Regions from separate parts of the Homo sapiens genome. Here region 2 is linked to region 1. The links come from fine-mapping of genetic effects on gene expression. A gene starts in region 1. The other region holds a variant in brackets. All regions are shown on one strand. Distances are from middle to middle.

The links. PIP is the estimated chance that this variant, and not a neighbour inherited with it, causes the effect.
Region 2: its variant is the best candidate, but not a certain one, in a credible set for the expression of EPHA2 in liver (GTEx, PIP 0.54).

What each region holds. Positions count from the first base shown.
Region 1 is chr1:16,153,030-16,166,232 of GRCh38, forward strand. It overlaps EPHA2 (EPH receptor A2), which reads right to left and starts at 3,040. Exons shown (of 17, transcript NM_004431.5): 1 at 2,819-3,040. The coding sequence starts at 2,903. EPHA2-AS1 (EPHA2 antisense RNA 1) reads left to right here and starts at 2,186. Exons shown (of 3, transcript NR_187275.1): 1 at 2,186-2,726; 2 at 3,942-4,150; 3 at 11,727-13,203. RefSeq lists enhancers at 9,016-9,544, 9,397-9,466, 9,405-9,699, 9,545-10,072, 10,073-10,600 and 2 more.
Region 2 is chr1:16,171,196-16,186,583 of GRCh38, forward strand. No RefSeq gene overlaps it. Among named protein-coding and RNA genes, the nearest start is that of EPHA2, 23 kb to the left of the region's middle. RefSeq lists a silencer at 4,739-5,033 and enhancers at 10,697-11,677, 12,505-13,004, 13,095-13,596, 13,597-14,096. The variant A/G (reference allele first, on the strand shown) is at 7,630.

The sequences.
Region 1 (13,203 bases):
GGGAGCCCCTCGGCTGACCCAGACGGCTTCCTGGAGAGGCTTAGGCTAAGCAGGGCTTATCCATGAGCTCTCTATCCCCTTACCTTCCCATTTCTGGGGGGAAAAAAAAAAAGCAAAAAACACCTCCTTCTTTGCCATGAGTTCCACCGTAAGTGCCATCTTTGTGGGTCCACATTGCTCCACAGCTTCTTCCACAAATGCAGGACTGCCACCCACTCCCGGTCTCCGGTCCTTCTCCGCAGCCTCCGAGGCTGTGGTTCCCTCCCCGCTTCCCCCATTCCTCTCTAACCAAGACTAGCTAATCCCTAAAGGAAGCAGGGAGGTGGGGACTCTGGGGAAAACATGAAAGAAAAGGGAAAGGGGACAGAGGGCAGACTTGGCCCCGGTAGAACCAGAAACCAAGGACTTCCTGGCACTCTCCAGCCCTCTTCCCATCAGCAGCACCCCAGCTCAGCACCCCCTGCCACCCGCCCAGGCCCCTGCCCAGCTATGCCTGCTTCCCAGGAAAATCTACCATGACACCAACCACAAAGCAGGCAGGGCCTTGGCTCTGGCAGCCAAGAAGCGGGATGCTCAGGTCTGGTCCTCTGTCCAGAAGGCCCTGGTTGGCAAGGGCTCGGGCCTCCCTCAGTTTCCCCATTTGTAAAAATGAGGGCAGATTCAGTGGCTGTTGATGACCTAACAGGAGCCACGTGGGCAACCAAGTATAGCCTAGGGGTGAGGGGGCAAGAAAGAAGTCTGAAGCAGCCTGGGGGTAGGTGAAAAAGGCACCTGTGTCCTCCTGCCTGCCCCCTAAGCCACCCCCAGGCAGACCCACCACATACAGCCTGATTCCCAGGAACTGAAACCAGCAGCTGCCAGCTAGGCCATCATGCCCACCCCCACCTAGGCACACTTCTCTAGGGACTCTTTCACGGGGACTCAGAGTCGAAGCAAAAATGTACCCCCACCCCAGTGCAATACACAAGCCTTTCCCCCTGCATCCCATGGGGTGTGGGGGTGGGGTTTAATCACACAGGCTGGGGAGAGGTGGACACAGGGGACAAGGACAAGGCAGCTCCAGGCTTCCAGGCCAGCTTGGGGACTGCAGCAGCAAAGCACCCGCCTAATCCCCCACCCCCCCATGGGCAGCCGAGGAGAAAGGCCTATAGTGATTCCAGCTGTCTCTCCCCTTCTCTCCAACCACAGTCCCCCAGGAAGGGGGAGGACCAAACGTTGGTGGGGCGGATATTGAGGGTGGCAGAAATCCTTGCCATGAGCTCCTGCAACCAGAAGTCCCGGTTGAGACCCCAACCCGGGCCCTGTCACTCCAGAGACTGAGACAGGATGCCACCCCCAACACCTGCCACTGCCCAACGGCTCCAGATCCGGCCTCTTTTCCTCCCAACACAGAACAGCAAAACCTCCAAACCCAGTTTGGGAGGCAGAAAAAGAAGGAAACAGGCCGGGGGTGGTGGCTCATGCCTGTAATCGCAGCACTTTGGGAGGCCGCGGCGGGTGGATCACCTGAGGTCAGGAGTTCAGAATCAGCCTGGCCAACATGGTGAAACCTCGTCTCCACTAAAAGATGCAAAAATTAGACGCGCCTGGTGGCGGGCACCTGTAATCCCAGCTACTAGGGAGGCTTGAGACAGGAGAATAGCTTGAACCCGGGAGGCAGAGGTTGCAGTGAGCCGAGATTGCGCCATTGCACTCCAGTCTGGGCAACAAGTGCGAAACTCCGTCTCAAAAAAAAAAAAAAAAAAAAAAAAGAAGGAAACTTCTCACCGGCCCAAGTTTCCTCCCGGCTTCCCCCTTGTGGAGCCTGCGGAAACCTCGCTCTGCCCAGGCAGGAGGGGAAGCCTTGCCCTCACTGTTGGAAATTGAAGCTGGCCTGGGCTGGGTGGACAGGAAGGTCTTCGGCCAGGGCAGGAGCCCCCATCCTCGCCCTGACCCTAGCGGAGGGACAACACCCCCACCACGCACCCGCTGCGCCATGAGCAAAGTCTGCGGCCCCTCACTCGGCGCGGCTCCGGGAACACTGGGGCGGGGGTGGGTGATTCAGTCCCCCACCCCCGGGTGTCCTGACTCCCTGGTGGCCCTGGGCTGACAGCTCCACACCTTGGGAGGCCGCACCCCCACCTGCCGCATTTCCTCGTTCTGAGTCACCCTTGCTCAGAACGCTTGACTTTGGGACTTCCTGTCCGCACTCGCGGCCCCTAACCTGCCCCGGGAGCCCGGGAGTGCGGCTTGGGAAGGAGGGAAAGGAGTGTGTGAGCAGGGATTGGCCCGAACCTATCTCCACGCTCTCCCCCGGGACTGGAGGTGAAGGGGGGCGTGGAGAAAATCTCAGGGAACAGGGGCTTCGACAGGGGGCTCCCGCCCGCCCGAGCCCCCTCCCCAAAATGCGAGGCCTGCACAGTATGCCTTCTCCGCAAAACCTCGGCAAGCGGGTTAGTGAATTCAGGTCACTAAGAAGCTGAGCCCGCGGAAAGCTGCCCAAACACCCCCTTCTCTAGGGGACTCCCCACGCCCCCCGCCGGGACGCGTTCCCGAAGTCGCCGCCTGGACTGCAACCGCGTGGCCTGCGCCGCGTCCTCTTCTCCGCAGCCTCCGAGGCCCGTGCGACCAAGCTGAAACCGCTTATTCTCCGGAGCCCCTATGACCCCGGGTGGGGGCCAGGGCTCGCCTCGATCGCAGCCCGTGCGCCCTCCGGACTCCAGTTCGCCGGGACTGGGCGACACCAGGTAGGTTCCAAAGTTGCGCGCGTCAAGGAGCGCCGGGCTCTAGGGGGCACTGGGGCCCGGGGGCCAGGGGTCCAGACGCCGCGCGCACTCACCTTCCTTGCCCTGCGCCGCCGCGGCCGCGGCCAGCGCACAGCCCCACAGCAGGGCGAAGCAGGCGCGGGCTGCCTGGAGCTCCATGCCGCGCTTCTCGCTCTCGGTCCGATCCCCCCGAGCCCGGCTCCCGCACACCCGCACGCCTGCACGCCGGCCTCGGTGTCCGCTCCCGCCCGCCGGCCTGCGCGCAACTTCTGCCCCTCCTGCCCCGAGTCCTTAATGGAAGTTGGGTGAGAACCGACTCCTGTTCATTCATGCCCTGCGTGACGTCACCAACGCCCGCCCTCAGGAATGTCTTTAAAGGGGCCGGGCTGGCACCCGGAGGAGAGGGAGGGGAAGTCCGGAGGGGTTTGGAGGAGGACCTTGGGGCCCTCTGGACTCGCGGGCTCCCCGCAGGCCTTCCAAAGTTTGAGCGTCTCAAAGCGCCAGCGCCCCTACGGATTAGCCCCCAGGGATCTCTGAGCCTGGTATCCTCGGTGGAAACGTTTAATGGTTTTGCGCTGAGCCATACCCATTCTGCCCTTCACCTCTGAGACTGAGCTCAATGCGACTGAGCTCAACGCTGGCCTGAAGGTCTGAGCTGAAATGGATTGGGGGTCCAATAAGCAGTTGCCTCCTAAGCAGCAGGCCTGAGAGAGTGGCCCAGAAATAGACCTGGATGCCCTCCTTCCTAAAACCCTTGAAGAGTATATCAAGCTGCTGATGGTCAAAAAGAGTATCTCTGTTCAGAAGCCTATAAGCCTACTATGATCTGAGAATAGGTTCATTTCCTCTGGGAATGGATCAGACATGCACTATCTTATTTATTAATAATTCTCATCTGGGAGGCAGGGGTCATCATCCCCATGTTACAGAAGAGGAGACTGAGGCTCCAAGAGCAGAAACAACATGCCCAAAGGGTGCACAGCTCACGGGTAGTAGAAGCAGGATTTGAATCCTGGTGGTCTCTGCTTGAACCACTGCTTCTTTTTGGGGAAGGGGGCAAGGGGCACCCCTGGCCCCCGACCCTGGCATGGGTTGATAGGTTTTGACAGTTTGGAGGACACCTGCCTACCACCTGCCCCTTGATAAGGCCTCTTCACAAAACTTCCTCAGACATGAGCTCATCTCCCTTCCTGACAGAAGCGGCTAGTGTGAGTGAAACAAACGGGAAATTTGCTCTGGCCCGCCTGCCCAGCCACCCACGGCTGCCTGTTGGCCAATCACCATTTGACCAGTCCAGGAAGAGCAACTGTGGCAGGCCTGATTTCCTGGGAGGCCCCAGACTCCCTTTGCCTACCTCTTCCTCTCTGACCCCATCCTCGCTTTGATGCCCGGGACCTGCTACCCAGGTACGTGGGTCTTCTCTGCCGGATGTGGACATCTTGGCCTCTCGCCTTGGTGCCTACTCTTGGGAAGCGGGTCCAGACATCTCTCCTGCAGGAAGAGAGGAAGGGTTAATTACAGGCGTTGGGGATAATTAAAGCCTTTGACCAAGAGGATGGGAGGAGAGCCTTGGTCCTCTGAGAGCCTGTGAGTGTGCAAGTGCCTGTGAGAATAAGTGCATGTGTATGAGGGTGTGAGATTTTGTTGAATGTGCATTCGTGTGTATAGACATGAGAGTGTTGATGTATGTATGACTGTGTGTGAGTGTGTGTATGGACATAAGTGTTGTATGTGACTGGGCAGGGTGGCTCAGGCCTGTAATTCCAGCACTTTGGGAGGCCGAGGCAGGCAGATCATTTGAGGTCAGGAGCTCCAGACATGCCTGGCCAACATGGTGAAACCCCGTCTCTACTAAAAATACAAAAAAATTAGCTGGGCGTGGTGCCACTCACCTGTAATCCCATCTACTAAGGAGGCTAAGGCAGGAGAATCACTTGAACCCCAGAGGCAGAGATTGCAGTGAGCCGAGATTGCGCCACTCACTGCACTCCAGCCTGGGCCAGCAAGACTCTGTCTCAAAAAAAAAAAGAAAAAAGTGTTGGTATATGTGTGTATAAGTGTGTGTGCATGGGCATGAGAGGATTTGGGTATGAGTGTGTGTCTGTGTGTGTTTTTGTGGATTGTGTGGATGTGTCTAGATGTGTGTATGAGTGTGCATGTGGGTGTGAGAGATTTGTGTATGAGTGCATGTGAGTGTGGATTTGTGTATGCATGTATTTGTGAGTGTGCCATACTTCACAGTAGATGTGGAGTCAGCCCATGAGTTTCTGAACAAGTTATTTCACTTTTCTGAGCCTCAGTTTGCTCCTGGAAAGATGTAAAGCCTATTTAGGAGAGTTACTGTAAAGATCAAATAAAGTCATGCATGTAAACCACAGGGGCCAGGACTACAGAAAGCACGCATGAAATCTCAGCTGTTACTGGGTTACATGCGGTTCAGCAACAGGAAGCCACATCCGTGGAGAGCAGGGCATGTGTTGTGCCCAGGGCTCTGTGGACAGGCACATGGGGTGTGTGGATGAGTGTGAGCATGTGTGTAGTACGTGGTTTGGATAAGTGTTTTGCATGTTGTATTGGAGCCTCTGGGCTAGGGACACTGGCGTGTGTAAGACTCCATGTGAGTTGTGTGGAAGCCACTGCTTGTACATGTGTGTTACATGCCACTTGCAGGCTCCATCTGTCAGATGTGTCACTAGAGGACACACTGCAGGAGGACAGGGATGTTTGTAGAAAACAGACAGTGCCTGGGCCAGGCGCGGTGGCTCACGCCTGTAATCCCAGCACTTTGGGAGGCCGAGGCAGATAGATCACTTGAGGTCAGGAGTTTGAGACCAAGCTTGTCATCATGGTGAAACCCCGTCTCTACTAAAAATACAAAAATTAGCCGGGCGTGGTGGCGCATGCCCGTAATCCCAGCTGCTCGAGTTGGAGGCAGGAAAGTCGCTTGAACCCAGGAGGTGGAGGTTGCAGTGAGCCGAGACCGCGGCACTGCACTCCAGCCTGGGTGACAGAGCGAGAGCCAAAAACAAAAAAAGAAAACAGACAGTGCCTGATACATACTAGATATTCAGCAAGCCTCCGCTGAATGAATGAACTAATGAGTGAATGACAGTGTTGCGAGTTCTGTGTTGCGTGAAAGTCTCTGTGTGTAGTGTTGGTTGGTCCTTCTGGTGGCAAGTGTGGGTTTCCATGTGTGGCCTCAAAAGGTTGAATCCAAGCACACACACGGCAGGGGTGCAGGCAGGCCCTGATGGCTGTGGGGCGTGTGCCCAGCAGTATGTGCACAAGTTGGGGGCTGAGAGCATAGGGCAGGGTGTTGCTCATCTGCAGCATGTGACGTGAACAGAGGCCTATGGAAAGGAGTGGTATGTCAGGTGGTGGCAAGAGGGTGTTCCACCTGGCTTTTCCCTGGCTTTTAGTCACCCATTTAATGACACACCCTTCCCTCTTTTCCTGTCCGACTCAGAGTCTTTCCCGCTCTAGGTGACTGGGTGCTAAGGAGGAAAGTTCTTCAGTGAGTCTTATAAAGCGGCACCAAAACGCGGTATTTATAGTGACATAATCAGCCCTAATGGAGATGGAATTACCCCATAAAGGCCCCAAGGAGCCCTCAGGGCCTCAGCGCCACTGCAGCAGACAAGGCTCCTGTACAGGCAGGTGGAGCCCGAGTGAGTGTGTGTTTGTGTGTGACTGCCTCTCCTGCCAATCCCTGCCTCCGGCCCACCAGCCTGCTTAGGGGCCCACCTTTGCTAGGACTTAGCTGGGGCTGGGTACTGGGGGCAAGGAGATGACAAAGGTGAATGCTGAAGCCATGGCCTCACTTACCCCACCTTTGATCTGTGCCTGCCTTTGGCCAAGAGCATCAGAAAAAAAATAATGCGGCCTGGGCAATACAGTGAGACCCCATCTCTACAAAAGAAAAAAGAAAAAAAATTAGCTGGGCATGGTGGTGAGCACCCGTGGCCTCAGCTACTCGGGCGGCTGAGGAAGGAGGATTGCTTGAGCCTAGGAGGTCAAGGCTGCAATGAGCCGTGATTGCACCACTGCACTCCAGCCTAGGCAACCAAGTGAGACCCTGTTTCAAAACAAAATTTTTTTAAAAAAAGAAAAGCAAAGAAAAAAACTGTAGCCAATACTTATGAAGCACTACTATGTGCCGGGCCCAGTTCTAGGCACTTATCTGTACTGATCCACTTAGTTCTCATGACACCTTCAGGGAGGTGGCCACTGCTCCTGCCCACATTTTGCAGAAGAGCAAATTTGGAAGTAAAATTTGGAGCTGGCATTCTGGCCCAGACAGGCTAGATCCAGCGCGCACTCTCATGGGTACCTGCCTCAACCATTGCCTCTGAATTCCACTGAACCTGGAGAGCAGTGCCCCGTCCTGGAATGTGCCAACTCTCCGCAGCTGGGATCTTTAAGGTCAGTCTAATTACTACCTCTTGGGTGAAACCCCCAGGGATCAGGCCCCCCCTAGAGCCCCAGGGGCCTCCATGCTACATGCCTACCAGCACCCTGCTCTCAACCAACTGAACTCTTTTTTGTTTTTCAAAGCCTCTGAACTATCTTCTCAACTAGACTGTAAATCCCTCAGAGGCAGGGTATGAATCCAGCAACAGGTAGAACAGTTCCCCACACATTCTGCTCAATAGATGCTAATTTTTTTTTTTTTTTTTTTTTTGAGACAGAGTCTTGCTCTGTCCCCCAGGCTGGAGTGCAGTGGCGCAATCTCAGCTCACTGCAACCTCCACCTCCCGGGTTCAAGTGATTCTCCTGCCTCAGCCTCCTGAGTATCTGGGATTACAGGTGCACGCCACCACACCTGGCTAATTTTTGTATTTTTAGTAGAGACAGGGTTTCACCATGTTGGTCAGGCTGGTCTTGAACTCCTGACCTCATGATCCGCCCTCCTCGGCCTCCTAAAGTGCTGGGATTACAGGCGTAAGCCACTGTGCTTGGCCTTAGATGCTCACATTTGATGGTGACATTCTAAATTAGTTTCCTCCATTCATTTCCTTTTTTTTTAGACGGAGTCTTGCTCTGTCACCGAGGCTGGAATGCAGTGGCGCAACCTCGGCTCACTGCAACCTCCACCTCCCGGGTTCAAGGGATTCTCCTGCCTCAGCTTCCCTAGTTGCTGGGATTACAGGCACACACCACCATGCACAGTTCATTTTTGTATTTTTTAGTGGAGATGGGGTTTCACCACGTTGGCCAGGCTGGTCTTGAACCTCTGACCTCAAGTGATCCTCCCACCTCGGCCTCCCAAAGTGCTGGGATTACAGGCGTGAGCCAGCACGCCCAGCCCCCTCCATTCATTTCTTTTTTTTATTTTTTATTTATTTATTTTTTAGACAGAGTCTCCTTCTGTTGCCAGGCTGGAGTGCAGAGGTTCGATCTCGGCTCACTGCAACCTCCACCTCCTGGGTTCAAGTGATTCTCCTGCCTCAGCCTCCCGAGTAGCTGGGACTACAGGCACGCGGCACCACGCCCAGATTTTTGTATTTTTAGTAGAGACGGGGTTTCAGCATGTTAGCCAGGATGGTCTCCATCACCCTCCCAAAGTGCTGGGATTACAGGCGTGAGCCACCACACCCAGACCCCTCTGTTCATTTCAATCCACATTTCTTGAAGGCCTGCTCTATGCCAGGCCACTTCACCTCTGTAAACTCATTTAATCCTCTCTAGCCCTGGAAGGAAAAGCTAATATTGCCTCCATTTTTGCAGAAACAACGTGAGGCTCAGAGAGAAGAAATGACTAAAATTACACAGCTGGTACATGGCAGAGGTGGAACTAAAAAGTTAAGTGTGTCTACCCCAGAGCCGAGTAGACCTGCTCTTTTTTGAACACTTCCTGGACTTTCATGCCTTTGTCCCAGCTGTGCCCTCTCCCTGGATGCCCCTTCCATCTGGGCAGCTCCTACTAGACCTGCCTTGGCATACATAACACAGGAGAACGGATTGCCAAAGGGTAGGAGAGTGCCTGGTCTATAGTGTGCGCCCAACACAGATTTGGTGAATGAATGAACACTGGGTCCAGCAGACCTGGATTCTTCCATGTAACCCACTGTGTGGCCTTGGTGGAGCCATGCGGGTGCAATAATCCTGGTTTCCACCCTTCAGGGCTGCTGCTGGGACTCAGTGAGATCATCATGTATCTAATGCCCTTTGCTCAGTGCTGGGCACACAGTCAATGCGCATTGAATCTTAGCTATTGCTACCTTTACAATCAATCAAAAGTCACTTCTGAAGAATAGACAGGGCTCCCCCAGGCCAAATAAATAATTCCTCCCGGGACAAACCCCAGCTCTCACTCCCTCCTCTTTAGGCAGGGGGCTCCCTGAAGGACAGAGACCCGGTTTTATTCCATCTTGCCGTCCCCCATGGTGCCGGGCATACAGTGGTGCCCAGTAAACGTGTGTGTTGCACAAACATGCGGTAACTAGGGCCCCATCTTTTTCAAAAGAACACACTCCCCAGGTGCAGCCGCAAAGAGAGACTGTTCAGCTGTTCAGGTGAGGTTTTGGGGTGAAACTCGTCTGAATAATAGTTTTACTGAACACAGCCTCACCCCCAACAAGGAGGCAATTTGAGGTGGGGGTGGGGAGACTTAAATGTGGGCTCCCGGGTTTTAAAGGGGGTAGCGCGGGAGGAAGCCCCCCAATAATTGCGGGGCTTCCCCCACCCCCAGAGCTGGATTAGAGGCTGCGCCACTTCCTTTGGGGCTCGCTCGCGCTTCCTGGGAGCCTTTGATGTGGGTTCTTGGTAGATCCTGCCCGCGGGGCCTGGATGCGGGCGGAGCCTCCGGGCAGGGCGGGGCCTCAGCCTGGGTCCGCACTGGGGAGGCGGCCACCCGGTAGCTTGGGCGGGTTCCGCCCACCTCCCGCCTGTATTTACAGCCCCCTTCCAACATCCCCGACTCCCTGAGGGCGCCCCTCATTCTGCTCGGCCTTGCCTTCCCCATTCGGCCACATCCTCCTCTCTCCCAACTCAGCTTCGACCCCCAAAGCCTTTCCCTAACCATCGGAACCACAGGCTTTTCTCCGGCCTCTGAGTGCCAGTCTTCAACTAGGTGTCTTTTAAAAAATCAAAAAGCATCTCATCCTACGGGATGTGTGTGAAAAAATAAAAATAAAATAAAGAAAAAGGGGGCCGGGCGCGGGAGCTCACGCCTGTAATCCCAGCACTTTGGGAGGCCTAGGCGGGCGGATCACCTGCAGTCAGGAGTTCGAGACCAGCTTGACCAAACTAGAGAAACTCCGTCTCTACTGAAAATACGAAATTAGCCGCGCATGGTGGCGCATGTCTGTAATCCTAGCTACTCTGGAGGCTGAGGCAGGGGAATCTCTTGAACCTGGGAGGTGGAGGTTGCAGTGAGCCGAGATAGCGTCATTGCACTCTTGCCTGGGCAATAACAAGAGCGAAGCTCCATCTCCAAAAAAAAAAAAAGAAGAAAGAAAAAAAGAAAAAGATAGCCCATCGCTCCTCCATTGCAGACCCAAAGGCTGTCAGCTGAATGGAAGGTGCTTCCTCACGACCTTTGGGATAAGTAAATTTGAAGTAATAGAAATAGCCAGCTGGGCGCGGTGGCTCATGCCTGTAATCCCAGCACTTTGGGAGGCTGAGGGGGGCAGATCACCTGAAGTTAGGAGCTCGAGACCAGTCTGGCCAACATGGTGAAACCCCGTCTCTACTAAAAATAATTAGCCAGGCGAGGTGGCGTGCACCTGTAATCCCAGCTACTCAAGGAGGCTGAGGCAGGAGAATAGCTTGAACCCGGGAGGCAGAGTTTGCAGTGAGCTGAGATCGCGCCATTGCACTCCAGTGAGCCGAGATCGCACCATTGCACTCCAGCCTGGGCAACAAGAGCGAAACTCCATCTCAAAAAAAAAATTTTTTTTGAAAAATAGGCCAGGCCTGCCTCAGTGCTCTTACACGTACTGTCCCCTCTGCCTGGATCAGTTTGTGCCCCTGCCCCCAAATTTTCAGGGCTGGCTCCCTCGCCTCCTTCAGATCTCTGTTTGAAGTTCAGCTCATGTCTGCCACATGTCCTAACCACCGTATTTAAAATAGCAGCCTCAGGCCAGGTGCGGTGGCTCACGTCTGTAATCCCAGCACTTTGGGAGGCCAAAGCAGGCAGATCACCTGAGGTTGGGAGTTCGAGACCAGCCTGACCAACGTGGAGAAACCACATCTCTACTAAAAATACAAAATTAGCCGGGCGTGGTGGAGCATGCCTGTAATCCCAGCGACTCTGTCTCAAAATAAAATAAAATAAAATAAATAAAATAAAATAAAATAAAATAAAATAAAATATAAAATAAAATAAAATAAAATAAAATATAGCAGCCTCTCACCCCACTCCACCTCTGGACTCCCTGTCCCCCTTCCTTGCTGTATTTTTCTCCATAGCAATTACCACCACCAGCTGCCACACTCCAGAGATTACCGTTCGTTTGTCTATTGTCTGTCTCCCCCTGCTCACACCACCCCCATTCGTGTGTGAGCTCCAGGAGAAGGGCCGGGGTTGCTGCTGCTCTGTGAGTCATGAACCGTCCCCACCCCCTAGTCTGTCCTACAAATTTGTTAAATGAATGAGCAAATAAACATAGTGGCTTCCCAGCTGACCAGTGATGAAAGCTTACACTGCGTGATCTAGGCTAGTCACTGCTGTCTTTCCCTCCCTCTCCTCATCAGTGCATTGAGAGATGACAGTAGCTCGGCCTCTTAGAGCAGTATGACGATGGCACAAGTTACTATTTGCCAAGCACAGAGCATGACGTCATGCCCAGAAGCCCAGGATACAATCCAGAGACAATGACAAATGGGGGATTCCCGCTTCTGCAGAAGGTGGGGCGACTGGTGCCCAGGGGCCCCCAGGAAGTGCCCTTACCTGACTCCCAGGATCCTCCTCTGTGACCCTGGGGCCTTCCAACCTGCCAGGTACTTTTCCTGTATTATCTTATTTTATCCTCCCAATAGCCTCTGTGAGCAGCACACTCCCCATTTCACAGACAAGGAAACTGAGGCTTACACAAGTGAAGTGACCTGCTCGACGTTGCACAAGGAAGTGGCAAAGTCAGCCTCTGAATCCAAGCCGTTGGGCTCTAAAGGCCCTGATGCCACTCAGCTAACCATGTGGCCTCTGGACATCACTGCCATCTTTTCTCTTACCCTCCTCTCCTCCTTGCACTGTGTTCTGAGGGTCAGCCTGACAACCCGTGTCCCCTGGGCAGATGTGCAGAGGAAGATCAAGTTGTTGTTCGCCAGGGGCCGAGGGCAAATTTCTGGCTTCCCACGGCCACCACTTACTGGGAGTTTCGGATGAGGTGCTTCACTGCCCTGAGCTCTTCTTCCGGGTCAAGTGGGGATAAAAATAAAACAATACCCACCTTGTGGGAAGACATGGGATCCTGAAAAACCTGGCAACGTGCCTGGCACATGGCAAGTACTCCGTAAATGTCAGCTAGGATTATTTTTATCATTGACACCATATTTGGGGGCCCCAGGCTGGCAGAGTACCTGCCAGGTGTCACCCCCTTCCTGAGTCCTGACAGTTTGGCTGCAGGCCTGCGTGGAGGCTTGGAAGGAAGAAGGGAGGAAAGGAGGAAAGGAGGAAAGGAGGAAGGGGTCAGGGAAGCCCCTCTGTTTGTTTTCTGTCTCTGAGAACTTCCCAGTCTGACTCTAGCCCCTTCCCCTCCCTGCAGGCACTAACACACAAGTCCCCCATTCACCAGAAATCTGTCCCAGGCTCCCTGGCTGCCATGCTCCCTGGATAAACCCACCAGGATGCCCTCAGCCCCTGAGGGAAGAGGAGAGAGCTTACACTCCTCCGGGCCCCTATTTCCACGCCCATCACCAGGCCTGGGCCCTCACAAGGCTACACACACACCAGGAAGTGCCAGGAACACAGCCACGCCAGAGCTCTCACAGATGCCTGTGCACACACACACACACACACACACACCTTTCCAGGCAAACTTGCATACACTTTCCTAATGGCCAGGTCTCAGGGGCTCTGTAGGGACCACCTCGGGACAGGACATGGTCTTCCCTCCCCCATTCCCATTCCCCTTCCTGCCCTGTTTCCCTCTGTCTGTCCATCCATCTTCATCAACCAGTCCCAGTGGGCCCCTGCTCACTCCCTCCGTTCCCCCTCCATCCGTCCGTCCACACATGGGTCCATCTGTCTGTCGCCTGCCTGTAGCTAGCCCTGCAGTGAGCAGTCTATCCCTACCCAGCCCTGCCCATCACTTCTGCCACAACACCCCTGCAAGATCCTGTCCCTGTCCTCAGCAGGGTCTCTCATCATTTCTCTAGAACCCACCCATCTATCCCCCCACCCCTTCAGCTGTGTCCTTCATCTGTCAATCTGTCCATCCATCCAGCCATCCATCCATCCATCCATCCATCCATCCATCCATCCAGCCATCCATCCATCCATCCAGCCATCCATCCA
Region 2 (15,388 bases), 19 kb after region 1:
ATGTGAGTTCCCAGGTGAATGTTCAGGGTCGTATATGTGTCCACGTCTGACAGTGTGTATGTCCTGAGCAATGGAACTGGGTAGGGGACGGAGGCCCTGGCATACACAGGTGTCACGTGTCCAGGCAAGCCCGTGTTATTATCCTCCTTTTACAGATGAAGAAACTGAGGCATGGGGAAGTGAAGGGATTCGTTGAAAATCATGCAACTAGTGAGTCTGCCCATGGGGGTGTGTGTGTGCAGGTGTGTGTGCATGGTGGGTGGGGTGGAGTGAAGGGGGGGGGGCTGCCTGCAGCTCCAACCCTGTAATAGACCCTCCCTGTCTCGCCAGCGACGGGCGGTAATAACTGTTTTGCCCAGCAGAACTGCCTCATGCCATAGCTTGAGAATGTGCCTCGGGGCCCGTCTGCAGAGACCACCCCCCAGTCAGGGCAGCCGGGCCAGACCTCGCCCAAGCCTGACCCTAGGCTGATCCCTGGGAGGAGTAGGGATCTCTGGGCCCTGCCCTGCCCTGCCTTCCTCACCTCCAAGTTGGCCTCAGCAGGCCCAGCAGGTGAAGGGCCCAGGCCCTGGGCAGCCCTGCGAGTCAGTGCTACGTCTGCCCGCCTCTGCCTTCAGATCACAAACTTCCCGAAGATAAGAGGTGGTGACTCCTCTAGCAGACTGGAGGGCTCTTCCGGAAATGGAGTATATGTCCCCTCCTCAGAGGGCAGAGGCTGTGGCTTCCCCATGAGAGTGGAGGCTTCAGCAGGACAGAGGCCAGGCCTCTGCTATCAGACTAGGAGCTCCCTGAGGGCAGAGGCTGTGGGATATTCCCGGGGCAGAGGTGACCTTCCCCCATCAGACTGGGACCTCAGCTCAGTCCAGCAGCTCTACGGTGAATGTCTCCGAGGGAGGGGCATTAGCACAACAGACACTGCCTCTCAGCCCCGAGTCCCCAGATCCATGTCATCTATTGGAGTCTCCCCCACTGTAAACCTGCAAGGGCAGCCACGGCCGGGAGCAGCTGGTCCTGAGACTTGGGCAGAGGCCCTGGACAGTGGGGCAGAAGCGCTTGGCTGGCCAGGAATTGGATCACTGCCCCCTCCCACCCCACCCCATTCAGCCCTGTCTCCCACGGACTCTGACCACCCCTTGGTTCTCTTATCAAAAACCGCCAAAACCCGCCATCGAAACTCCCAGCCTCCTGACCCCCATGCCCCACCCGGCTCCACCCGTCTTCCCAACCTGGCATCCAGTGCCCCAAACCTGCCTATTCCGTTCCTGGGAAGACCCAGAAGGGAGCAGAGCTGGCACCAGGAGGCCAACAACCCAGGCCCCCTCCGTCCCTAGCCCCTCCTGGCCCTGGGCCCTCCACCCTACTGTTTCTCCTGGGGTGTGCCTTTCTTTGCCTTATGCCTCGGCATCTCTAAGTGGCAGGGGATGGAGTGGAGTGAGGGCGGCAGGCCAAGGGCATGGCCCATAATGAAAAAGGAATCTGGTTGGGCATGGTGGCTCACCCTTGTAATCTCAGCACTTTGGGAGGCCAAGGCAGGCAGATCATGAGGTCAGGAGATCGAGAGCAGCCTAGCCAACATGGTGAAACCCCGTCTCTACTAAAAACACAAAAATTAGCTGGACGTGGTGGTGGGCGCCTGTAATCCCAGCTACTCGGGAGGCTGAGGCAGGAGAATTGCTGGAACCCGGGAGGTGGAGGTTGCAGTGAGCCAGGATCACGCCATTGCACTCCAGCTGGGGCCAACAACAGCAAGACTCCATCTCAAAAAAAAAAAAAAAAAAAAAGAAAAAGGAATCTGAGCATGGAGGCACCCTCCACCTTCGGATTGCTAGGAGATCAATGTCTGGCCCCGAGTGGGTGAGGCCAGCCGAGGTCACTTGAAGGGTATCAGCCCTGAGGAGGAGTTCACGGGGCCTCTTCCTCTCGGCCAACCCCAGCAGAGCTTGGAAACTGAGGCCCAGAGCAGGAGTCCAGGCTCATAGAGCCGGCCTGGCAGAGGAGGGGTGGGGGAGTTGCGTCCCCACCATTCCCACTGGGGCATACAGCGCCTTTCTGAGCGTCACAGGCCTGTCTGTGTCCTTCTTTTGCGGAAGAACTAACCACACCTCAGGTTCCCCTTATGAAAGACAGAGGCTGAGGAGAGTGAGTCAGTTTTATTATATGAGATAAGGCGGCTGGACAAAGCAGCGACACAGGGACTGGCACACAGACAGTGCTCAGCGAAGCAGTCGCCTTCCTTCAGGTCTGAAATCCTCACTCAGCTCCCCAGCTTCTCTGGGGGATCTCCCTTCCCCTCTCTGGACCCCTGGGCCTGACTTCCCCCACTACTCCCAGCCTTTGTCCCACTCCTGCCCCAGGCACCCCTCCCTCCTTCATGGGAAATGGAGCTTCCTCCTCTGGTCCTGCCACCACCTTCCTGGTGAGGGTCGGGCTCTGCTGGGAGTGCCAGAGCTGCCCAGCCTGCTGACTCAGCGCCTGGGGATAGGGCTTGCTTTAGGAACAGCCCAGGCCTCGGGCAAACAGAGCCACGGCAACCACACCCCTGCCACAGGAATGCAGCAACATTCCTGGGGGGTGCCGTGGCACCGTGCCTGTGACTGGGGGGCAGGTGGGGGGCAGGTAGACACCTGCCTCTGTTACCTTGCCACAGGTAGAAGGGAGCCAGGAGTCAGGGCCCAGTGTCCTGGGGCAGGGGGATGGAGTGAGGTCATGAGGCTTTGAAATCTGTACCAGCCATGTGACTTGAACAAGGCCTCTCTGAGCCTCAGTTTCCTCACCTGTAAGGTGAAGGGAGAATAGCGGTAGCCTTCTGGTGGGCTTATGGGGAGGACTGAACGAGAGTGCGCCCGTCTGGGGCTCAGCATCAGCCTGCCTCACCGTGAGGATTCCGTGAAGCAGACCCTCACCCCTGTAATAGAATCAGGGGGTCTTCTGGCTCTGGGCCCTAGAATGGGGCTGAAGCCCAGAGAGGCAGTTGCACCTCCCCTAGGCCACACAGCAGGTATAGGCCCCAGGGGCTGAGTGCCCATCATGCCTGCCCTCCTCTCCATCCACCCAGAGCCTCACTAGCCAGACCCGCACTCTCCCATCCCCTGGGCAAGTCTGCACCCCAGGTCGGTGAGGACTCCCAGATTCTACTCCCACCAGCCAGGGCCAGACCTGGTGCAGGAGGCTCCACAGTTCTCCTGCTCGGGGCTCCGTCTCCCCACTTCCTGGAGCTCCATCCAAGTGGGGAACCCTGCCCGTCCTCTGCCCCTCAAGCCAACCAGGCATTTACGGGGGATGGGGCAGGGAGGGAGGCCAGGACCTGCATCCTTCCAGCCCTGGCCCTCAGCAACCCCATCAGGCAGTCAGGGGAGGAGCCTCCCCCAGGGAATCCTCCCTCCCTCTGTGTTGGCCTGGCCAGGTTCTCCTCTCTCTGTCTGCCTTTGTCTTTTTCTCTCTGTCTCTTCATCCCAGGAAGAGGCCACAGGACAGGGGTGTCCCAAGCACAGAAGAAACTTGTCTGATGAAAACAGGCCTTGGCTGGGAGCAGGGCCATCTGGATTTGCACCCTGATTCTGTCTGACTTGCTGTGTGACCTTGGGCGAGTCCCCTCCCCTCTCTGGTCTTTCCCATTATTATCTACCCAGCACATAGTAGGTTCTCGGAAAAGGGGAGTCACATATGCGTGCCCCCAGCTCTCAGCCCCTCACTGCCTCCTTTAATCCCCACAGATCTGCCAGCCTTTGATACTCCTGTGGGTGGCCGAGCCGGGGTTCTGAATAGGAAGCTGAGGGCTCATGGGCTGCGGGGAAGCAGGCAGGGGCTGAGCCTGCCAGGCCTGCCCGAGGGAGGGGGCTGTGGGCCCCTCGCCATTCACTGCTAAGCCTGGATCCGGGCGCCTTTGTGCCAAGAACAAAACCCGGGGGATCAGCTGTTCTCAGGCCTGCCTCTCTCAGCTCCGGAAGGGACGGAAGCCTGGGCCTGAGGGGTGGGCCGCACTCCCTCCATGGGCCCTGGGGTGCCGGGGCTGGCCCCATACCCCAGAAGCTCCCCACTACCTCCGGGTGTGGAGCTATGGTGGGCGAGCAAACCTGGGTTCAGATCCCACCTTCTACTCATCATGAGACTTGGGCAAGTGTTTTAAGCCCTCGGAGCCTCAGTTTCATGATCTGTAAAGTGGACATTAGAGTCGCTCGGGATGCGGGATGCTTGAATGAGATGATGCACTCAGCACGCGGCAGGCCCTGGGGCCCTGTGTGCTCTACAATTGCAGCTGCTATTAGACCAGCTTCTTTCTTGCCTGGGTATGTGGGGCTTAGGCCAGAACAAATCTTGGGACTGAGTGTAAAATATATGTGAGGGGGTGGGAGGGGGTGGGATGGGGCTCGGTGCGGGCCTGGCAGGTGTGCTGGGAGGCAAGGCCTATGACTCCTGTGGGCCTGCTCTTCCTCCCATCCCACCCTCCACAGTCCCCACCTCAGGGGCCCTGGGCCTGGGGCAGCAGGGGCCGGGATGTGTCTCTCCAGAGCAGGAACGGAGGGGCCTCCGCAACTGGTTGGGGAGGGGGGGTGGATGCCAGCCCCCGCTGATTAGGTCTCAAATTAAAGCCGAGCTTGCTCCTGTCGCTGCTCAGGCAGGCCCTCCTCCTGGCCACAGTTCCCTGCCTGGCCCTCTGCTTCGGGCCTCATGGTGGCTGGTTGCTCCCAGCCTAGAATTGCTAAAAGGCTCCCGTAGTGGGTAGGAGCCTCAGGGGACCTGGGAGAGGCTTCAGGGGCCCTGCCTGTGCGGGGGTCTCTCCTGTGACCCTCAGACCTGAGCCAGTGTCTGGGGACAAGTCACCGTGTCAGAGGCTGCGGAGAGCAAAGCCCAGGCGGTGATGACTTGAGTTTCCAGGCCGGGTGCCAGGAGGCCCGCGGTCACACTCCGCCTGGGGCCTGGGCTCCGGCCAACTGTCAGCAGCAGAGATTGTTGGGTTGGTTTTATTTTAAACAAAAAAGAACTTTGAGTGGAAACATGTGTTTCTTTTTTCTCCCCCTTCCCTCTCTCCCTATCTCTCTCCATCTCATCATGGAATATTTCTCTTTTTTGTACCTCCCTTTCTCTGTTTTTCTCTCTGTCTTCCTCTATTTGTCCCTGCCTCTGTCTCTCTCTCTCTCTCTCTCATTCTTTCTTTGTTTTCCTATCTCTTGATTTCTCTGTCTCTTTCTCTATTTCTTTTTCCGCAGCTTTCAGGAGTCAGGAGAGGTACCAGACTTCCTCCCTCGGGGTGTGGCCTGGGCCCCTGCCATAAAATCCCCAGGCGTGCCACGGCCCTATGTCGGGGGTCTGCCGCTCCAGGGGAGGGAGGGGGTGTCTAGCAGCGGAGGCTCCAGGACCCAAATGCTCCATCCTCCTCCATCCTCCTCCTCCAAGCTCCCACTGCCCCTGCATCTGCCCTTCCTGTGTCTGTTTTCTCTACTAAGCATCTAGAAAATAATTCTGCAGCTTGAGACAAGTTTTAAAACACTGGTCTGGCCCAAACCACCCATCTACAGCCAGAGACTGGCGCCGAGGAGGGGACCATGGCCTGCTCAACACCGCACGGAGGGTTAGGGGCAAAGCCAGGCCGACCCAGGTCCCCCACTCCCAAGTGACATTACTGACACCCCCAAACCCACAGTCACCACACTTCTCAGGTCCCTGCGTCTTTCAGAGGGGTGGTCTGCTTCCTAGGAAGTGATGTGCCCTCCCCTAAGGTGGTCACCCAGCACAAGGGTCCCCCTGGAAAATGTCCTGCCTTGGCTGGTCACCCCTCCCCCAGGACAGACAAGCTTTTGGGCCCCCACCTTTCAGCCCCTTCTGCCAGGCAGTAGAGAAGAGAGAAGAGAGACTCGCAGGCACAGTGGCTCATGCCTGTAATCCTAGCACTTTGGGAGGCCGAGGTGGGCAGATCACAAGGTCAGGAGATACAGAAGAGAGACTGGCCACCCATGCACTGGGCCCAGGTCCTAGCTCGACGTCTGAGTCCTTGTGTGACTGTGAATATGACTTTTCCACTGGCTGGCCTCAGTTTCCCCATCTTTGTAACAGAAGCCTTGCCTTTGCCGCGGATCCCCTCTCTGCTCTAATATGTTATGGTGTTCTCCTCTCCTTCCATGGAGAGGAATTCTGGAACATCAGACCAGGAGTGCCATCTCCTCTCCCAAAGTGAGAGGGACTGTCCTCAGTGTGGCCTCAATAGGTCAACTCCCCTTCACTTCAGGTTCCTTGTCCCCTGTGTGCAAGGGCCCCAGATGCCACCACCAAGGGGAGAGGTGCCACCATGACCTGGTGCACCATTGTCAAAGGTGCACTTTCTTGGGTGTCCGGGGTCATGCCAGGATTCATGCAGGGATAGGAGGGGCTGCCTGCGTGTCAGGGGCCCATTCCACCCCTGTCTCCCACAGCCCCAGGAGTAAAGTCAGGGTAAGTGTGCGGGATTAGTAAGGTGGGGACACGGGAGACTGTCTTTCCAGATTTGGGCAAACTCTGTCACCAGCACCTGGCTACTCCGACCTCCCCACTGCCTGGCTTCTGAAAGTGGCCCAAAGAGAAGGGCAGGGAGCCACATGGTCACCTCTGCTGGTAGGGAAAGAAAGACATGCTCCCAGGAGCCTATGAAGGGTGAGGCACCAGCCCTATTTCTGCCATCCCCTGACACACCTCCAAGGGCTGCAAAATGTGACCTTCTCCTGTCCTCACCAGTCCCTGAAGATCCTGCCACCTCTAGTTTGGAACATGGAAATGACTCCTTATAAGAGCCTTGAAGGTAGCAGCCATTACCACCCACTTTACAGATAGGGAAAATGAGGCACAGAAAGAGGAAGCATTTGCCTGAGTTTACACTGAGTGGTGTGCTCGCCCAGTTGGCTCTTGCAGGCTCAGGGAGAGTAGATTGTTCCATTTTCATGCATTTTGCAAGCCAAGTTTCATTGGTTGCTTGAAGTCAACTGTAGTGGGAGTATTTACACCACAGCAATCAGCAGTGACACTCTTCTTTTTCCTTTTTTTTTTTTTTTTTTTTGAGACAGAGTCTCACTCTGTCGCCCAGGCTGGAGTGCAGTGGTTCAATCTCGGCTCACTGCAACCTCAGCCTCCCGGGTTCAAGCAATTCTCATGCCTCAGCCTCCCAAGTACCTGGGATTACAGGTGCCCACCACCATGCCTGACTGATTTTTTTTATTTTTAGTAGAGACGGGGTTACACCATGTTGGCCAGTCTGGTCTCGAACTCCTGACCTCAAGTGATCCACCTGCCTCAGCCTCCCAAAGTGCTGGGATTACAGGCGTGAGCCACCACACCTGGCCTTCTTTTTACCCTTTTCATTTTTTTTTCTCTTTTCCTTTTAGAAAGCAGGTTGTTAAACATTTACCAGCTCACCACTGGCTGGAGGCCACAGCATTTATAGCGTCTCAGAAGGGTCTGGAGCTTAGAAAGTTTAAGAGCTTAGCAAGACTCCTCCTGTGTCTCAGGACCTGTGATGGATCTGAGCCTGTCTGACACCAAAGCCAAAGAAATGCCTTCCTTCCCTCACGAGGCCAAGAGTTAGCGTCTCTTTCTACCCCATCATGACAACTTCCTGTCCAGGGCAAGAAACTGTCCTGATTGTCCCTTGGGGGCAGGGATTAA[A/G]GGTACTACAGGTTCAGAGCCCCTGGCTAGCGTGCCCTGCCCTCTGACCACGTATGATCAATTCCATAAATATTTACCCAGCGCCTCACTTAACCTCCCTGAGCCTGTTTCTTCAAAGCTGCAAAATGGGGCCCTTCAGCCTGACTACTTTAATTCATCCATCCACCCATTCCTTCAGTTAGCGGCTCCCCTGTGCTGGGTGGTGTTTTTGAAGGATACTGGAGTCGGGATGCCTGCTTTGAGTCCTGGCTCTGGCACTGGCTTCCTCGGTACCATGGGCCTCAGCGTTCCCATCTGTACAATGGCACCCACATAAGGGTTCCTTCCAACTCCTTTCCCCATCTCAGGGGGTTGTTGCGGGATATCGGGGCTGGGGAACCTTGGCTAGCTGAGGAACTAGGCTAGCTGACACACAAAGGACCAGCAACAGTTCACGCCCTGGAGACAGAACGCGCCCACGTGATTCACACCGGCAGCAGCGGACTCTGTTTCTGTTGCCTTGAATGAGGTGCGCTCTAGTCTTGCAGAGTTTAGAAAACAAGGAGGTGTGGAATGTTCAGGGAAGACTTCCTGATGAGGTAATAATAACACAGGAACAGCTAATATTTGATGAGCACTTGCTGTGTGCCAGGGCTTGTGCTAAACACATGCTTCATCTTATTTAATCCTTGCAAAGAACTTGCCGGGTGGGAACGCATGTGCTACCCGTTTTGTAAATGAAGAACCTGAAGCCCAGAAGCCCAGAGAGTGGAAGTGATTTGACCAAGGTTTTTTTTTTATTATTATTATTATTATTATTTTATTTTTTTAGACAGAGTCTCACTCTTGTCGCCCAGGCTGGGGTGCAGTGGTGCAATCTTGGCTCACTGCAACCTCCACCTTCTGAGTTCAAGTGATTCTCCTGCCTCAGCCTCCTGAGTAGCTGGGATTACAGGCGCCCACCACCACGCCTGGCTAATTTTTGTACTTTTTTTTAATAGAGACAAGGTTTCAACATGTTGGCCTGGCTGGTCTCAAACTCGTGACTTCAGGTGATCCGCCCTCCTCGGCCTCCCAAAGTGCTGTGATTACAGGCGTAAGCCCCGCGCCCAGCCAAGGTTATTCATTTGTTCAGAAAACATTGATTGATGGGGAACTTTTGTTGAGTAGAGTTTCAGTTTGGGATGATGAAAAAGTTCTGCAGATGGACGGTGGCGAAAAGTTGCACAGCAATGTGAATGCACTTAATGCCACCGACCTGTACACTTCCAAACGCTTAACATGGTCGATTTTATGTTACATATATGTTACCACCATAAAAACACAAATGAAAAAGATTTACTGGGCCGGACATGGTGGCTCACACCTATAATCCCAGCACTTTGGGAGGCTGAGGCAGGCAGATCACTTGAGGTCAGGAGTTCGAGACCAGCCTGGCCAACATGGTGAAACCCCGTCTCTACTAAAAATACAAAAATTAGTCAGGCGTGGTGCTGCACACCGTGGTGCAGCTACTCGGGAGGGTAAGGCAGGAGAATCACTTGAGCCCGGGAGGTGGAGGTTGCAGTGAGCCGAGATTGTGCCATTGCACTCTAGACTGGGTGGGTGACAGAGTGAGACTCCATCTCAAAAAAAAAAAAAAAAAAGATTTACTGGTCCCCTGTTGTGTTTTAGGCATGAGTCAGATGCTGTGGATATAGCAATGAACACAGCAGACAAAGGTCTCTGCCTCTGTGAAACTGACATTGGAGAACAGCAGTCTAGAAGAACTTGCTGTGGATGGAATGATGAATGGATAGAAACGTTTTACATCTGCTCCGCACTGGCCGCACGCGGCTACTGAGCACTTGAGATGCGTCTGGTGCACCTGAAGAGCTGACTTTAATTTTATTTCATTTTAATTAATTTAAATTAATTATTTGTTTATTTGAGACAGAGTCTCGCTCTGTCACTCAGGCTGGAGTACGGTGGCGCAATCACAGCTCACTGCAACCTCTGCCTTCTGGGCTCAAGCCAGCCTCCTACCTCAGCCTCCTGAGTAGCCAGGACTACAGGTGTACACCACCACACCCAGCTAATTTTTTGCGTGCTTTTTGTAGAGATGGGGTTTCACCATGTTGCCTAGTCTGGTCTCGAACTCCTGACCTCAAGAGATCCACCCACCTTGGATCCCAAAATGCTGGGATTACAGGCATGAGCTACTGCGCCCGGCCTCTAGATTTAAATAGTACCTACCGAACTGGCCAGTGCAGCTCTAAAAGGTCAGCAGCATGTGAGTGGGAGAGCTGGGCCTGGCTGTGTGTTATTCACGTTCTTGAGTGTTGGCTTTCCACAGTTTGGGCCTCTGGCAGCAGAATCACCTGGGAAGCCAAAACTTCAGATCCCTGGGATCCCAGACCCACTGAATCAGAATCTCCGAGGCCAGGGCTTGGGCGTCTGCCCGTTCACCACACACCCCAGCTGATTCTGATGCACATGAGGTCAAGTTTGAAACCCACCCCACTGCCCTAGTTGTTCAAGACTCCCAGCGCTGGCTGGATGCAAAGTCTTATGCCTGTAATCCCAGCTCTTTTGGGAGGCCAAGGCGGGCAGATCACTTGAGGTCAGGAGTTCGAGACCAGCCGGGCCTACAGAGTGAAACCCCGTCTCTACTAAAAATACAAAAATTAGCTAGGTGTGGTGGTGGGCGCCTGTAATCCCAGGAGGTGGAGGTTGCAGTGAGCCGAGATCGCGCCGCTGCACTGCATCCTGGGCAACAGAGCGGGACTCCGTCTCAAAAAAAAAAAAAGACTCCCGGCCAGGAAGAGAGCTTGAATGAAGTCTGACCTGCACCAGGCCTTCTGGGCCCAGACCAGGCCTGCTTAGGGGCATGTGCCCTGCTCAGAACTTCCCCATCCCAGCTAACCCAGAAGATAGCTGGGATGAAGATAGCTACTTCCGGCTACCAGCCCATGATTCTTTGCCAGCCTGCACTGTTCCCTGAAGAGCAAAAAGACTTGGAATTTCCCTGCTCTATCCAGAGGGGCTGGGATGAGGGGTCCTGAGTTCCCTTATCCCATGTCCTACCAACCTCTGGAGCTCTCCAGTCAGCCAGCTCGAGGCTCTGGCCCTAGCTGGTGGGCAATGGGAGGGAGAGGCTTGGCCCAGCACCCCACCCCACAGATCAGCCTGGTCCGGCAAGGGGAGGAAGGAAGCAGAGGCAGCCTGGGCCAGCGGACACAGGGTTGGGGGTGACACAGGCCTCAGGAATTTGAAAACAAACACTTCGCCAGGGAAGGAAGAGGCTGCTGTTGGCTGCTGAGCCCGGGCGGGCCCAGGTCCCTCCCTTTCAGGGCAGGGGTGAATCCCAGTGCTGCTGACCATGGCCCCCGGCTGGACCCAGTGCTCGGGGAGTTTCCACTCCGCTGGTGGGATGGGAAGGTCATGGGAGGTGTGGGGGGATCCAGGCTCTGTCCAGATACGGGAGCATCCTGGCTGGGGTGAGGACAGGAAGGGACAAAGAGCTGGGAAAGCCACGAGACCCCAGGAGAAGGCTCAGCAGCAACAGGATGCCGCCTCAAGCATTTATTGAGCACCCATGGTATTCCAAAAACTGAGAATATAAGCACTGCCTAGCTGGGGAGATCAGGGGAAGCCTAGAGCCCTGTGGCCTTCCTGGAGGAGGTGGCATTGAACTGAGCCCTGAAAGGTAAACTAGGACCGGGGAGGACAGAATCTTACAAGTCTCCCCCCTTCACACTCCCAGAGCCGGCGCTCAGTGAGTGCATGAGTGAGTAAGCGGCTGACCAGCGACTATGCAGCATGAATGAATGACAGACTGAATGACATGAAGCCTGGAGTCTCAAGGCCGAGACTGCAAAAGAAGAGTCCATCCTCCTATCCCCTCTGCTCTGAACTCTCTTCATGATCCTGAAGGTGCTTGGTACCTGGAGACTACGGAGCCAGCCTGCCGGGGTTCTAGTCTGAACTCAGTCACTTCCCAGCTGTGTAACTTTGGACAAGTTACTTAACCTCTCTGTGCCTCTGGTCCCTTCTCTGTAAAGTGTAGTCATCGGCCGGGCGTGGTGGCTCACGCCTGTAATCCCAGCACTTTGGGAGGCCAAGGCAGACGAATCACTTGAGGTCAGGAGTTCAAGACCAGCCTGCCCAACATGGTGAAACCCTGTCTCTACTAAAAACACAAAAATCAGCCGGGTGTCGGGGGCAGGCACCTGTAATCCCAGCTACTCGGGAGGCTAAGGCACGAGAATTGCTTGAACCCGGGAGGCGGAGGTTGCAGTGAGCTGACATCTCGCCACTGCACTCCAGCCTGGGCAACAGAGTGAGACTCAAAAAAAAAAAAAAAAAATACAGAGGTAATCATAGTGCCTCCTTCACAGGGTTTTTGAGAGGACTGAATGAGTTTTACAAGTGAAGTGCTTAGAACGACGTTGCACATGTAGTGAGAACTACATGAGTGTTGGCCAATGCTATTACTGAGGTTCCAGCTTACGCGTTCATTGAGTCACTCACTCACTCACTGTTCATTCACTGATTCGCTCCTACATGCCATCCGCCACTTACACACCCCTCCCTCTTCACCGTCATCTGTTAAGCAATCCCCGTGTGCCCGGCTCTCTCCTCTCGGTCCTCCCAGCCCCCCTTTGCCAGTCTTGGATGGTGCCCGCCGTGCTGCCAATTACCCTAACAATTTCATTAATTCCTCTCAAGCCCAAAACAAACAAGAAGGACCTATCTGGAGCAGGGGTCACGTGCTAAGACCAGAAGCAGGTGTGGGACAAACCCTCTAGGACGAGTTCTTTGACCAGAGTTCATCACCGGAGCTGCTCCAGAGATGGCCAGGCCTCCCCACCTGCAGGTGCCCGGCCAGTGCCCCCCACCCCGGGCAGCCTCACCCACTCCCCTCTTTGAGTAAAGGTAAAGGGACTTGCCCAAGGCTGGGTTCTCCCACATCCCGACTGCACCTGTCCACATTTCAGGCTTCATTCATGCCAGGAGCCCCAGACCTGCTCCATGCACCAGCTCCGCCCAAGCCTGGAGCCCCGGGCTGGCTGAGGTGAGAGCCCCAAAGCTCGAGCCCATTTCAGCAGCTAACAATTAGAGCTGGTGTGAACATGATGACTGCATGCTGATTAATGTAAGATGGCTGAGCAGAAGATCCCGCCATTTCCTTCCCCACAGGCCCTGGGAGAACAGGTCCCGCTGGGGAAGACTCTGTCGTGTTCTGCAAAAGCCATTTCTTGAGCACGTCCTGCAGGCCGGGCACTGCGCTGGGCACTTGATTCCTTTCAACAGCATGACATGGTGGGAGGACAACTTGCCTCTCATTGATGAAGAAACGGAGGCTCAGAGAGGTAAAGGAACTTGCCCAAGGCCACACAGCCAGTCAGTGTGGTCCTGGAATTCCAATCCAGGTCTTCTCTTGCTGATTCCTACCCCCAGGGATGAGCCAGTTTGACATTTGTGGAACTGGAGAGAGGCTGGGTTTGGGCATAAGGTAATGTTTAGGCCAGAGGGTGGAGAAGGAGAGGACAGCCAGAGAGGCAGAGCCAAGCGCCAGGCAGGAACAATGGTACAGGGCAGGTAACGGGAGCCCGGCCAGCTCTGGGACTCCTGGGCAGGCCCTGCTGGGCCCTGCGAGCAACAGGCTCACCCTGTGGAGCTGCCAGGGTGACAGCAGCCTCGATCTGCTGACTCAACGAGTGCATCGGCCTTTTCCTGGAAAACAGTAGACGCAGTGTGGGTGTCGGAGGGAGGCACCTGTTTGGGAAAAGGGTGTGTGGGAACCCTGTCCTGCCCTGCAGCTCCCCACAGCCAGTGTACAGGTACTTAGCTCCAGGTGCCCCCCGAACCTCCCACCACCTGCCCAGACCCCAGAAGCCACCGGATCCAGGAGTCCGAGCCAGCTGTGGGCTGAGTCCATGGTGCCACCAAGGCTCTGCATGACCAGTGCTGCCAGCCACCACCTCAGCCAAGCAGCACAGCCTCTCAGGGCATGTCCCCACTTGCTGTCTGCAGAGCCTTGTTTTGCCCCACCCTGAAGGGGCAGGTGTAGACGAGCATTGAGGCAGGTCTATGTGACACCACTTGCTGTCACTCTTCTTTGGGAGGTATCAGGGCCACTCTGCCACGGGGCACAGCTTAGGGCCTCCATGGAATCTGGTCTGAAGGATCCCGCTGCCCAGAGGGGGGTCAAGAATACGGAATGGGTTCAGGAGCACCCCCTGTCTTCAGGATCCAGTTGGGGGAGGTCCCAGCAGGGCCAGTCACAGACACTTGTCACACCCTGGAGGGGATAATAGGATCTGGGGCTCAGCCTCCACCAATTTCATCACCACACACCACACCCAGGCAAGGGAGAGCAGAGGCATCAGCAGGGCCTGGCTGAGGGGCTGAAGCCTGGTGGGGAAGCAGGGAGGGCCCCTGGGCCTCTCGGTCCTATCTCTTCCCAATCCAGGCCTCAGCGGACTCCAGGGCAGGGGTGCGGGAGCTGATTTCCAGGTGCAATATTCACTGTCACCATGGCCGCTTCCAGCACCCAGCCTGAATTTCCTAGTGCAATGCTGGGAAGAACTAGTCTTTTTCTTTTTTTTTCTTTTTTTCTTTTTTTTTTTTTTTGAGACAAACTCCTGCACTGTCGCCCAGACTGGAGTGCAGTGGCACGATCTCAGCTTGCTGCAACCTTCGACTCCCAGGTTCAAGCGATTCTCTTACCTCGGCCTCCCAAGTAGCTGGGATTACCAGTGCCCCACCACCACGCCTGGCTAATATTTTTTTTTTTTTTTTTTTTGAGACGGAGTCTTGCTCTGTCACTGAGGCTGGAGTGCAGTGGCGCGATCTCAGCTCACTGCAAGCTCCGCCTCCCGGGTTCACGCCATTTTCCTGCCTCAGCCTCCCAAGTAGCTGGGACTACAGGCGCCCGCCACCACGCCCGGCTAAGTTTTTGTATTTTTAGTAGAGACGGGGTTTCACTGTGGTCTCAATCTCCTGACCTCGTGATCCACCTGCCTCGGCCTCCCAAAGTGCTGGGATTACAGGCGTGAGCCACCGTGCCTGGCCAATTTTTTTGTATTTTTAGTAGAGATGGGGTTTCGCCATGTTGACTGTGGCTGGTCTCGAACTCCTGACCTTATGATCCCCCTGCCTTTGCCTCCCAAAGTGCTGGGATTACAGGTGTGAGCCACCGTGCCTGGCCTCTTTTTCTTTTTCTTTTGAGATAGGGTCTCACTCTGTCACTCAGGCTGGAGTACAGTGGAGTGATCATGGCTCACTGCAGCCTCTACCTCCCAAGCTCAAGTGATCCTCCCACCTCAGCCTCCTGAGTAGCTAGGATACAGGCACTCACCACCACACCTGGCTAATTAAAAAAAAATTTTTTTTTTTGAGACAGAGTCTCGCTCTGTCGCCCAGGCTGGGGGGCAATGGCGCGATCTCGGCTCACTGCAAGCTCCACCTCCTGGGTTCACGCCGTTCTCCCACCTCAGCCTCCTGAGTAGCTGGGACTACAGGCGCCCACCACCACGCCCAGCTAACTTTTTGTATTTTTAGTAGAGACAGAGTTTCACCTTGTTAGCCAGGATGGTCTTGATCTCCTGACCTCATGATCTGCCCGCCTCGGCCTGCCAAAGTGCTGGGATTACAGGCATGAGCCACCATACCCTGTCAAAAAAAATTTTTTTAGAGATGATGTCTCACTATGTTGCCCAGGCTAGTCTCAAACTCCTGAGCTCAAGTGATCCTTCTGCCTCAGCCTCCCAAAGTGCTGGGATGACAGGTGTGA